Linked DNA regions of Homo sapiens. The protein of the gene in region 1 purifies or fractionates together with the protein of each later gene. This does not show direct contact. Each region holds a gene or a part of one and is shown on either strand. Other genes may lie near its edges.

Evidence for each region.
Region 2: the proteins of EEF2K (region 1) and WDFY3 purify together in Homo sapiens (affinity purification with mass spectrometry; one large-scale study listed by BioGRID and IntAct). This does not show direct contact.
Region 3: the proteins of EEF2K (region 1) and PANK4 fractionate together in Homo sapiens (co-fractionation; one large-scale study listed by BioGRID). This does not show direct contact.

Annotation. Positions count from the first base shown.
Region 1 is NC_000016.10:22,212,751-22,216,400, reverse strand, and holds part of EEF2K (eukaryotic elongation factor 2 kinase), read right to left. Parts: intron 1-3,650. UniProt on the Homo sapiens protein: Threonine kinase that regulates protein synthesis by controlling the rate of peptide chain elongation.
Region 2 is NC_000004.12:84,820,191-84,823,840, forward strand, and holds part of WDFY3 (WD repeat and FYVE domain-containing protein 3), read right to left. Parts: intron 1,362-3,650; coding exon 894-1,361; intron 1-893. UniProt on the Homo sapiens protein: Required for selective macroautophagy (aggrephagy). Acts as an adapter protein by linking specific proteins destined for degradation to the core autophagic machinery members, such as the ATG5-ATG12-ATG16L E3-like ligase, SQSTM1 and LC3.
Region 3 is NC_000001.11:2,516,593-2,520,242, reverse strand, and holds part of PANK4 (4'-phosphopantetheine phosphatase), read left to right. Parts: intron 1-288; coding exon 289-442; intron 443-918; coding exon 919-1,100; intron 1,101-1,645; coding exon 1,646-1,727; intron 1,728-1,978; coding exon 1,979-2,079; intron 2,080-2,349; coding exon of another isoform or gene 2,350-2,361; exon of another isoform or gene 2,362-3,650. UniProt on the Homo sapiens protein: Phosphatase which shows a preference for 4'-phosphopantetheine and its oxidatively damaged forms (sulfonate or S-sulfonate), providing strong indirect evidence that the phosphatase activity pre-empts damage in the coenzyme A (CoA) pathway.

The DNA.
Region 1 (3,650 bases):
GAAAGACAAATAATGCACGTGAAAGACTGACTGCACACCAGGTGCTACACTGGACTCTCCTCTGACAATGACAGGAGCTGCTAGGTCCAGAAGTGACAGTCTACCTCTGAAAAGGCAACCTTAAGGGAGCGGAACTACACAGCGCTAGGCTGTTGAGGGCTGCACCTGGCTTGTTCTGAAGATATTTTAAACCCTAGCTGGAGTCCCGAGTTTCCTTCAAACAAGAAACAAAAACCAAAGCCCAATACAGTGGCTAACAGCTTGTCCTCTACAGCCGCATGGCCAGGGTTTGAATCCTGGGCCCCACCATTAGGAGCTGGGACCCTCTCCTAGACAATAGACTTGTCAGGTGGGCTGTGACATCCTAAGGTCTGCACTGCTGTCTCCATCCCTCCCCCCATACCTTGTATTGCCTTCAGTGCACAGGTGCTCAACATGAACTCAAATACCCTTATGTTTAGTGTTTCTTTTGTTTTGAGATGGAGTCTCCCTCTGTTACCCAGGCTGGAGTGCAGTGGCGTGATCTCGGCTTACTGCAACCTCCGCCTCCCGGATTCAAGTGATTCTTCTGCCTCGGCCTCCCGAGTAGCTGGGATTACAGGCACCCGCCACCACACCTGGATAATTTTTGTATTTTTAGTAGAGACGGGGTTTCACCATGTTGGTCAGGCTAGTCTTGAACTCCTGACCTCAAGTGATCCACCCGCCTCAGCCTCCCAAAGAGATGGGATTATAGGTGTGAGTCACCGTGTCTGGCTGCTCAGTGTTTATTTACTGGGATGCAGCATTAGGAGTGATTAAGTCAAGCATCAAGCTAAGAGTTCACATCAGTGTCTTAATGTCTGCACCCCTAGCATATAATGGGTGCTCATAAACATTTATTTAAACTATTGAGAGAAATAGTACATCAGAATGAAAGGACCAATTTACAGAGTCCAGCCCATCCGTCCCTTCCTCCCTGCCATCTCAGCTTCCCAAGTTTCCAAGTCCAAGAATCAATCTCCATGCACCACCAAACTCTCCTCACCTCCTTGCCCTTGTATCTATCTGCAGGTGCCTCTGAGGCAGGCGAATAGGGTCTGGAGGCAGGGAACCTAAGGCTGATTCAGGCTGACTTCCTAGAACTAAATCAAAAGGAAAACCCCTACTTTCCAAGCCCAAGTAACAAAAGGACCAGAGGCTACTCCCTTTGCAACCCCCAACTTACCTGCGTGGCAGATGAAAAACTGAAGTTACCTCTGATTGGTCCCTTCCCACAACCAATCAGGCTGGTGCTGGCCAAGTCCTCGTTTGTATAGGAGTCTTCATTTGTAACTTCACTTCAGCCTCTGATTGGTCGCATTCCACAACCTATCAGACTGATCCCAGGCCATTACTTCATTTACATAGGGTGTACATCAAGTAACCAATGGGAAACCTCTAGAGGGTTTTTAAACCCCAGGCAATTCTGTAAGCAATCTGCTCAAGCCCACTCCCACCCTGTGGAGTGTACTTTTGTTTTCTGTAAATATTTGCTTTCGTTGCTTTCTTTCCTTGTTTTGTTCGTGTGTTTTGTCCAATTCTTTGCTCAAAATGCCAAGAACCTGGACACCCTCCACCAGTAACACCTCTGCCTGGAATCCCTTTCCCACTCACTAGCAAAACCCTTTAATCTCTTCAAGACGCAGCTCAAATGTTGACCTCCTCCAGAAAGCCTTCCTTGTTTGTTTCTTTTGGGTTTGTTGTTGTTGTTGTTGCTGAGAGAGTCTGGCTCTGTTGGCCAGGCTGGAGTGCAGTGGTGCAATCATAGCTCACTGCAGCCTCCAACTCCTGGGCTCAAGTGATCCTCCCACCTCAGCCTCCATTGTACCTGGGACTACAGGTGCATACCACCCACATCTGGCTAATTATGTTATTTTATTTTTATAGAGATGGGCGTCTCCCTACATTGCCCAGGCTGGTCTCTTTTCTTTTTTTTTTGAGACAGGGTCTCACTCTGTCACCCAGGCTGGAGTGCAATGGTGCAATCATGGCTCACGGCAGCCTCAGTCTCCCAAGCTCAAGTGATCCTCTTGCCTCTGAACTCCTGGCCTCAAGCGATCCTCTTGCCTCGACCTCCCAAAGTTGATTACATGCATGAGCTACTGCACCTGGCCTCCAGAAAGCCTTCCTTGGATAGTTCCCTCCTCTGTAAACAGGGGTCAGCTAACAGTACCCCTGCAGGGGTTGTTCTGAGGATACAATGAGATTAGGCACATGGTGTCTGGGATAGACTTGACTCTCAAAAGTACTAGCTGCTGTTATGTCCCAATAATCCTCCAGTCCCCGACTCCCTAAATCACTTCGCTCCCTACAAACCCTCCACAAGCAAATTTCATTATAACCTGAGGCCAGACTGTCTGCGGCAGGCAGAAACATGGCTCCCCTAAGATGGCTACATCCTAATCCCTGGAACCTGTGAATATGTTACCTTATATGGCAAAAGGGACTTTGCAGATGTGATTAAGGATCTTAAGATGGGAGACAGTCATGGATTATCCTGTGAGCCCAGTGTAATCACAAGGATCCTTATAAAAAGGAGGTAGAAGGGTCAGAGTTAGAGGAAGAGATGTGACCAAAGACAGAAAGGTGTGAAGTTGCCACACTGCTGGCTTCAAAGATGGAAGGGAGGGGCCAGGAGCCCAAGGAATGAGGACAGCCCCTAGAATCTGGAGAAGGCAAAGAAACCGATTTTCTCCTGGGGCCTCCAGAAGGAACACAGCCATGCTGACACCTAGATTTTAGAACTTCTGATCCCCAGGAACTATAAGATAATAAATGTGTTGTTTTAAAGCCACTAAGTAATTGCAGCAATTTGTTACAGCAGCAATTGGAAACTAACGAAGTCCTGAAGAGCAGCTCTCAACCTTGGGCAATTTTGCTCCCTCAAGGGACATTTGGCAATGTCTAGAGACATTTTCAGTTGTTGAAACTCTAGGGGTGCAACTAGCATCTAGTGGATAGAGGCCAGGGATGCTGCCAAACATCCTAAAATAAACAGAACAGTCCCCTGCAGTGAAGAAGGTCCGGCCCAATGTCAGTGCCGAGGCTGAGAAACCCAGCTCTAGAATGAATCTGGTGGAATTTCTTTCTTTTGTTTTTTGAGATGGAGTCTCACTCTGTCGCCCAGGCTGGAGTGCAGCAACTACATCTTGGCTCACTGCAAACTCCATCTCCCAGGTTCAAGTGATTCTTGTGCCTCAGCCTCCTGAGTAGCTGGGATTACAGGTGTGTGCCACCATGCCTGGCTCATTTTTGTATTTTTAGTAGAGACAGGGTTTCACCATGTCACCCAGGCTGATCTTGAACTCCTGACCTCAGGTGATCCACCCATCTCCGCCTCCCAAAGTGCTGGGATTACAGGCGTGAGCCACTGTGCCTGGCCTCTTTCTTTCTTTTTTAAGAGACTGGGTGGGTGTCTTGATCTCTCATCCAGGCTGGAGTGCAGTGGCATAATCACAGCTCACTGCATCCTTGAACTCCTGGGCTTAAGGGATCCTCCCGCCTCAGCCTCCTGAGTAGCTGGGACTACAGGCCTGTGCCACTATGCCTGGCTTATTTTAAAAAATTTTTTGTAGAGATGGTGTCTTGCCACTCCTGGACTCAAGTGATCCTCCAGCCACAGCCTCCCA
Region 2 (3,650 bases), on another chromosome or scaffold:
AAAAAGGTTCAAAGGTCCAAATTACAAAAGTGATAAGCTTATTTTTTCTTGATTCCGTTTTACTGTAATAATTTCTTTATTTCTTCAGTATTCAGTTTTACCCCTAATAGGACAGATATAATATAATCTTTAAAACGATGCATGCATCCAACATTTGGCAAAAGTAGGCTCAAAATCAATATTAACAGATTTTATTTCGGTATGCTTGCAAGTGGCCGTTATCCAATAAATATTAAAAATGAAAATGCAAAGGTTAAATATATCCTCTTCACAGAGGGTTTTCCTAATAAAGGATGTCAACAGGAGAACGCTAGATTTTGATACACCAAAAAGAGAGAAAAGTTCATGAATAAAGCTATCTATTCAACCTGTATTAATTCACATTTAATACTTATTAATTGCCAGATACTACTGTACTTTTATCAGATTTATCAGAGAGGTACCCAATGATAATACATTGTGTATATAACATCATTAAATATACGTATTTGCTCTGTACAATAAAAACACATTGAAGTAACTATACATTTAACTATATTTATTAGTTGTAATTAATAACAAATCTGATTATTTTCAGAAGCTTTTAAAGCTCGCTCTTAGAAGCACAAGGCAGTAGATACTAGTCATGTGGATCATACATGTTTTCCCTCAGTTTTTACCTTCCTTTAAACTCTCTCCAATACACTCACATAATTCTAGCTTCCTCCTCCTCAATTACCTAACAGAGGTTGAATGAACCTGTAAATTTTGGAAAATACAGTTCACTAATATGTCACAATAATGCACATTAGGAAGTCATTGAAATCAATAACCAAAGAATGGGAACAAGAACAAAAAATTCTCTGTTTTGAACCCCTTTTCAAATAAAAATAAAATTACAGACAATACTTTACCTTGTTCATTTAGTGCCTGAGTTGGATCCTTCAACAGGGCAGCATATTTATGCAAAAGGTTTACCATGACCTCCAAAAGGCCAACCTCCCTGAACACGTCTTTAAATATGTAGTCATGTCTTGTAAACTTAAGAAGTGTTTTCATTGCAATAATGCTACAGTGATAAGAAGAGCTAGATTTTAAGAGGATACTGACACTAATAAGTTCTTTACAAGGTATATAATTTAAGCTAAAAACAACAAACTCCAGCATCTCAAAGTATTTGTTTTGTACTTCTGGGAGTTTAGAAATCTTCTCTGCAAACTGTGACAATGTGTGCTGTGACTCTAGGATGAAGTAATTGGCATTGTCAGCCATGTAAATATTTGTGATAGCATCAAGGATGATTTGGGCAAGGAAGCTGGTTTTTGCTTTTAAAAATGCATTCTGAAGAACTGCAAAGGCCTGGACGTTTCTCACACTGTGACCTAGAACAGAAAAGAAAAACATAAAAGTAGGTACTATGTGATATTTTAATGATGGCAAACTAGTCTGTTTAAACACATCATGAATTATAACATTTATCAATTATTTACTAAGAACATAACCCTGTTTTCACAAAAGGTCTTATTTTTCTTCATCAGGTTCAAATCATTTAATTAAAAATAACAATGATTAAAACTTTAATGCATTATTATGAATATTTCAATTCAAAAATAGTGTATGTTGAAAAGTTAGACTGTTTTAGAGGGAATAAAAGCATATTATTATAAACATCCATGCTTCAGAGTTTAGAGTGGTAGTTTTATTATCTATGAGATTGATTTTGACTATAAGGACAGCTGTCTCTCAATTTAAAAAGACTTTGAGGCTGAAGAAGTTACAGGCCTGAGAGCAGCAATAATGAAGCAGGAAAACAGGAGGGGAAAATTTTTCTAAATTCCAGTTTTCCTTTATAATTAGAACACTGTGATTTTTATAAATTTTAAGCTGGAAGTTTGTTTTGTTTTCTAGCTAACAGTACAATTTCTTCATATAGACATTTGTTAAAGTAATTTATGGCCAGCTATTCAAACGTACCAAATGGGGAAAAAAAAACTTTATACATGGCTCTGGTGAGGCAAATTAGTGACAATAATTATAAAGAAATTAAGACAGAAAGTTCTATTTGAAGTACATGAAAATAAGCAGCTTGCCTGTAAAAGGAGTCCCCAGAACAATACCTATTAGGAGTATATGGCATTTCCAAGTATGACCAAAAAATTAACATAGTGTCTGACAGAATAAGCTGGATTTCAGAAAGAGTATAAACCAGAGAACTACCAAAATTAGTAAATGGAGCAGAAAGAACACTCAGGGCTGGGGGCAGTAGCTCACACCGGTAGTCCTAGCACTTTGGGAAGACTGCCTGAGGCCAGGAGTTCTAGACTAGCCTGGGTAACATAGCAAGACCACCTCCATTTCTACAAGAGATTTAAAAAAAAATTTAGCTGGGGATGGTGGCATGTGCCTGTAGTTCTAGCTACTCAGGAGGCTGAGGCAGGAGGCTGAGGCAGGAGGATTGCTTGAGCCCAGGAGTTTGAGGTTGCAGTGGGCTATGATCACACCACTGCACTTCAGCCTGGGCGACAGAAAGCAATCCTGTCTGTAAAATAAACAAACAAACAAACAAAAAAGAATGCTCAGAAATCTTGACTTCGACATTTCTTAAAAACACAGGAAATTTAAAAAATCTCCAGCCTATATATGATTTCAATTCTCTAATTTCTTGTTTATTACATGTATGGCAAATACCAAAAATTTATCTTTGTTTCCTGTGTCTATCAGTCTATCTAAGTTTGTTTTTTGGTTACCTACATAATATAAAAAGTAAAGATGTCTGGAAAAGAATAATCAACATCTCAGCAGCTTTTCAAAAAAATAGTTCATGTGATTATTAATTTATATGGAAAATCAAAAGACTTAGAATAGCCAATATGATTCTGAGAAGAAAGAACAAAACTGGACAACTTAAGTGACCTGATTTTAAGGCTTATTATAAAGCTACAGCAATCAAGACAGTGTGGTATTGGCTTAAGGACAGGTACATGGATCAATCAAACAAAATTCAGAAAGTGTCTCAGATATATGTAGTCATATATGATATTTTCAACAAAGGGTCTTGGCACATTCAGATACCCATATTAAAAAAGAAATCCTTACTTTCTACCCTCTATGATAATAACTTAAAATGTACCATAGACCTTAATTTAAAAGTTAAAATATGAAACACTGGATAAAGAAAAAATCAGAAGAAAACATTAGAGATCTTTGTGAATCTGAAGTAAAGATTTCTTCAATAGGAGAAAAACAATCACAAAATATTATTAAAATGAAAAACTGGACTTCATCAAAATTTAAAACTTCCATTTCTCAAAAGATGCGTTAAAAAAAAACCAGCAAGTCAAAACTAAGAGAACACACTTCCAAAATACATATTAAGGGATAAAGAACTTATACAGAATATCTAAAGAACTCTTATAACTCCAGTAAAACAACCCTATCAAACAATGGGCTCAGAGATCTGAACCAAGGTAGAGAAACAGATGGTGACAAAGCACATAAAAAATGCAAAACTTCATTAGTCAATTATAAAAATGAAAATTAAAATAACAATTAGACATTATTACATACTTAGTAGAATGTCTAAAATTAAAAGGACTAACAATACCAAGTGTTACTGACAGCGTCAAGCAACTGGAACTGACATTACTGATGTGAATGCAAAAATTGGACAG
Region 3 (3,650 bases), on another chromosome or scaffold:
GTGCAAAAGCTGCTTCCGGGCCTCCCTCCTGACTCGCGTCAGTGGGTCTCTGGCCTCTGCGGCTTCACTCTTTGCGCCCTGAGGGTTGGGTGTCCCAGCAACCCAGAGCTTCTATCCTGGCTGGGTGGCCCGAGGGTCCCGCTTGCCGCCTCCTGCCTTTGGTCCCACGCGATGAGGGCCCATTTACCCCCTGCCCGCGCGTGCCTCCTGCCATGGGCTTGGTTTCTGGGGTCGTGGGGATTCCAGCAGCTCCTGGCGCCTCACCCGCCCCCTCGCCGTGTCCTGCAGAAGTTTGACGAGCTCCTGCACCTGGCCTCGAGGGGCCAGCACAGCAATGTGGACATGCTGGTGCGGGACGTCTACGGCGGCGCCCACCAGACTCTCGGGCTGAGCGGGAACCTCATCGCCAGCAGCTTCGGGAAGTCGGCCACCGCCGACCAAGGTGCTCACCCCGGCCTCTGCCGCCAGAGAGCAGGATGGTGGGGACACTTGGGGTCTCACGGACAGGAGCTTCCCCCACCATTGCTTTCCCACAACTGCTCCCTGGAGAGTCGGGGTCTTGGGTGTCAGCCCTGTAACCTCTTCCTGCCGAGTCGCTGCAGCTCAGGCCCACTGCTCAGAACGTCGGCAGATAAACGCCACGGTCTTGGTTTTGGAAGAAAAAATAGTTTCCTGATTGGGTTTTTTCCTCCTTCAAAACAAAGCTTAATCCGTCCAGGAATGATTCACACATCACACGCAGCCTCCCGCACTTGGGCTCCAGTTCCCCCACTCAGCTCTCTCTCCCCCTCCCCTCCCACTCAGCTCTCTCTCCCCCTCCCCTCCCACTCAGCTCTCTCTCCCCCTCCCCTCCTGCTCGCTCTCATGTCGTGCACTTGCTGTACTTGGAGATGAGTGCCTTTTCCTTCCCTTCCTCAGAGTTCTCCAAAGAAGACATGGCGAAGAGCCTGCTGCACATGATCAGCAACGACATTGGGCAGCTGGCCTGCCTCCACGCACGGCTGCACAGCCTGGACCGCGTGTACTTTGGAGGCTTCTTTATCCGGGGCCACCCCGTGACCATGCGCACCATCACCTATAGCATCAACTTCTTCTCCAAGGTAACGGATGCGCCGCCCTCCCCAGCCTCTAACGCAGACCCCCCAGGATCTTCCCAATCAGTCATGCTGGTTAGACACCGCAGCACCCCCAGGGAGGCCTGGAGGGTGGGGGCCAAGAAGCCCAGCACCCCTCCCTTCTGACTGATTCTGGGCAGCCTACATTTTGTGGCACCGTGGCCACCTGAGTTTGAGTACATCACCAGTGATGAGCATTCTAGAGAGCTCCAGGCAGGCCTGCTGATCTGCGCTGGGGTCAGGGTGCCCCTGCCCCCGCAGAGGCACGCCCACCCACATGCCTGACGCAGAGACTTGTGGGCCAGGGACTCGCTGCATGGGAGAAGCTATCTCACCCTTAGCTTTCTTCAAACAGCAGCCCGCCCTCTGGTGCCAGGCGCGATTCCACTGGCAAGTATGCCGTGGGTGCCATGGCGCCTCTTCGAGGGTTTGGGCCGCGCGGTGCGAGGCCCGCGCACGTTGAGCTGGTTTGCGGAGGCACCGGGTGTTGTGTGGGGCCAACAGCAGCACGTGTGCTTTGGCCACGGCAGGGGGAAGTGCAGGCGCTGTTTCTGAGGCACGAAGGCTACCTGGGAGCCATCGGAGCGTTCCTGAAAGGAGCTGAGCAGGACAGTGAGTCGCGGTGCTGGCGCCCCTGAGCAGCGTGGGGCCTCAGCTGTGGCCTGGGCCTGTGCTCCAGGCCAGGGCGGCCCAGGGTGGAGGTGGGGTGGGGAGCGTGAGTCCTCAGAAAGTGACAGCAGCAGGCATGTCTAACATTTTAACAATTTAGTTAATAAGCGATTTTATACCCTTTCCTCCTCCACTCTCCTGCTTTTGAATCAAGGGCAAGGTTAACACAAGTGACCTGGCTTCTTGCTTTCCAGATCCTAACCAGTACAGCTGGGGAGAGAACTATGCAGGCAGCTCCGGGCTGATGAGTGCATCACCCGAGCTCGGCCCGGCGCAGCGGGCGCGGAGTGGCACTGTGAGTAGTGGGCTCTGGCCGCCCCGGGCCCCAGGGGAGCAGCCTATGCCGCACTCACCTCGCCTGTCCCTGAGCGAAGCCTCTTGTGGCTGTCCCGGCTGAAAGGCGCCTCTGCCCATGGCGAATCCTCCCATGGACCTGGGGTATAACTAGGGGCAAGAGAAGGACACTGTGGCTTGCTTTCCCATCTCCCTCATTGGGTGCTTTCGTATTTTGGAAACATTCAGCAGGAATTACGGAGTCTGTGTGATCCGGCCTTCTTGTTTGCAGAGAGATTGCTAAAGTTCAGGGGTGACGGGGACCTCTCCCCACGCCAGAAGGCCCGTCCACTTTGGAGTTGAAACCCGAAACCGCAGGAGCCACCCAGGGCCCTGCCTAGGACTGCGCGCTCTGCCGCACACTGCCGCGCACTGTGGCTGATGGTCTGTCGGTTACAGTCTGCTCTCCTCGGGGTGTCCCGGCTCATTCCTTGGATCCCCAGTGGGTTTGCCCTGGCCTGAGCTGGGTGGCACTGGCGGGCTAGGAGACGCACCCCATGTCTGCCGAGTTGGAGCTGCTCCGGAAGGGTCCCCCGCCAGGACCTGCGTCAGCCACGGGATGCCCCCAGCACAGCCCCACATGGCAGGAACCGCCCCGTGTCACAGGCTGTCAGGGTCCTCGACCGTGCCCCCCCGCGGGGCTCATTCCTTCTGTAGCTGTGAGCAGTTAACCTGAGGTCACGCACAAAGCTAGTCGGACCCCTCAGGACAGGCCGCTGGCATTGTTGGCAGGAAGTTGCTTGTCATTTGTAGACATGGGGTTCAGTGTCAGTATTTTCAAGACCGCGACTTGTTGAGTTTTGGCTTCTCAGGAGGGCGCCTCCCTTTTGTGTGGGTCCTGCAGTTCACACCAGGCCACGGCCTCGCACAGACGCACCACACTGGCCGCAGCCCTGGTCTGCCTTTCCCACCGCCAGCACTAGGCAGGGGAGTGGGGGCGAGGCTCTGGGGGCCTGGCAGAGCCCCAGGCTCTCAGCTTTTGCCCTGCTGTTGGGCAGAGGGGCTTGGTGTCTTCCAGCCTCAGTTTCTGATTTGCCAAGTGTGCATAATTTGCCAAATGTCCTGGACTGTAACCTGGAGTGACTGCGTGGACGGCCACAGTGCTTCGGGGGCCCCGTTCAGGAGGCGCTTGTTACCTATTTGGTACCCCACCAGTGGCACAGCCCTGCCAGGCAGGAGGGGCCCCCACCTTACTGAGGATCAAACTGACATGCAGAGAGATGGAGTCATTTATTTCAGTTTATATTGTCCAAAAAAGTCAAAGCGAAGATTTGAACCCATTTGTCAGGATAGAAGGAGCCTGCGACCTGGCAAGGCAGCACCAGGCGATCCCGGCTGTGGTCCGTGGTAGTTAAGGTGGGGCTCCTGCCGCCTTCTGCACTGGCTTTGGGAAGTCACTGGCTTTTTCCACGTGGAGCTTCTGCCCGGCATGGGCTTCCCACCTGGAAGGCGTCCCCTTTGCTCTGGAGGTCCCTGCCCACCCAGAGGCTGCTTCTCCAGCCCCAGGGGTTGCCAGCAGGGGTGCCCCAGTGG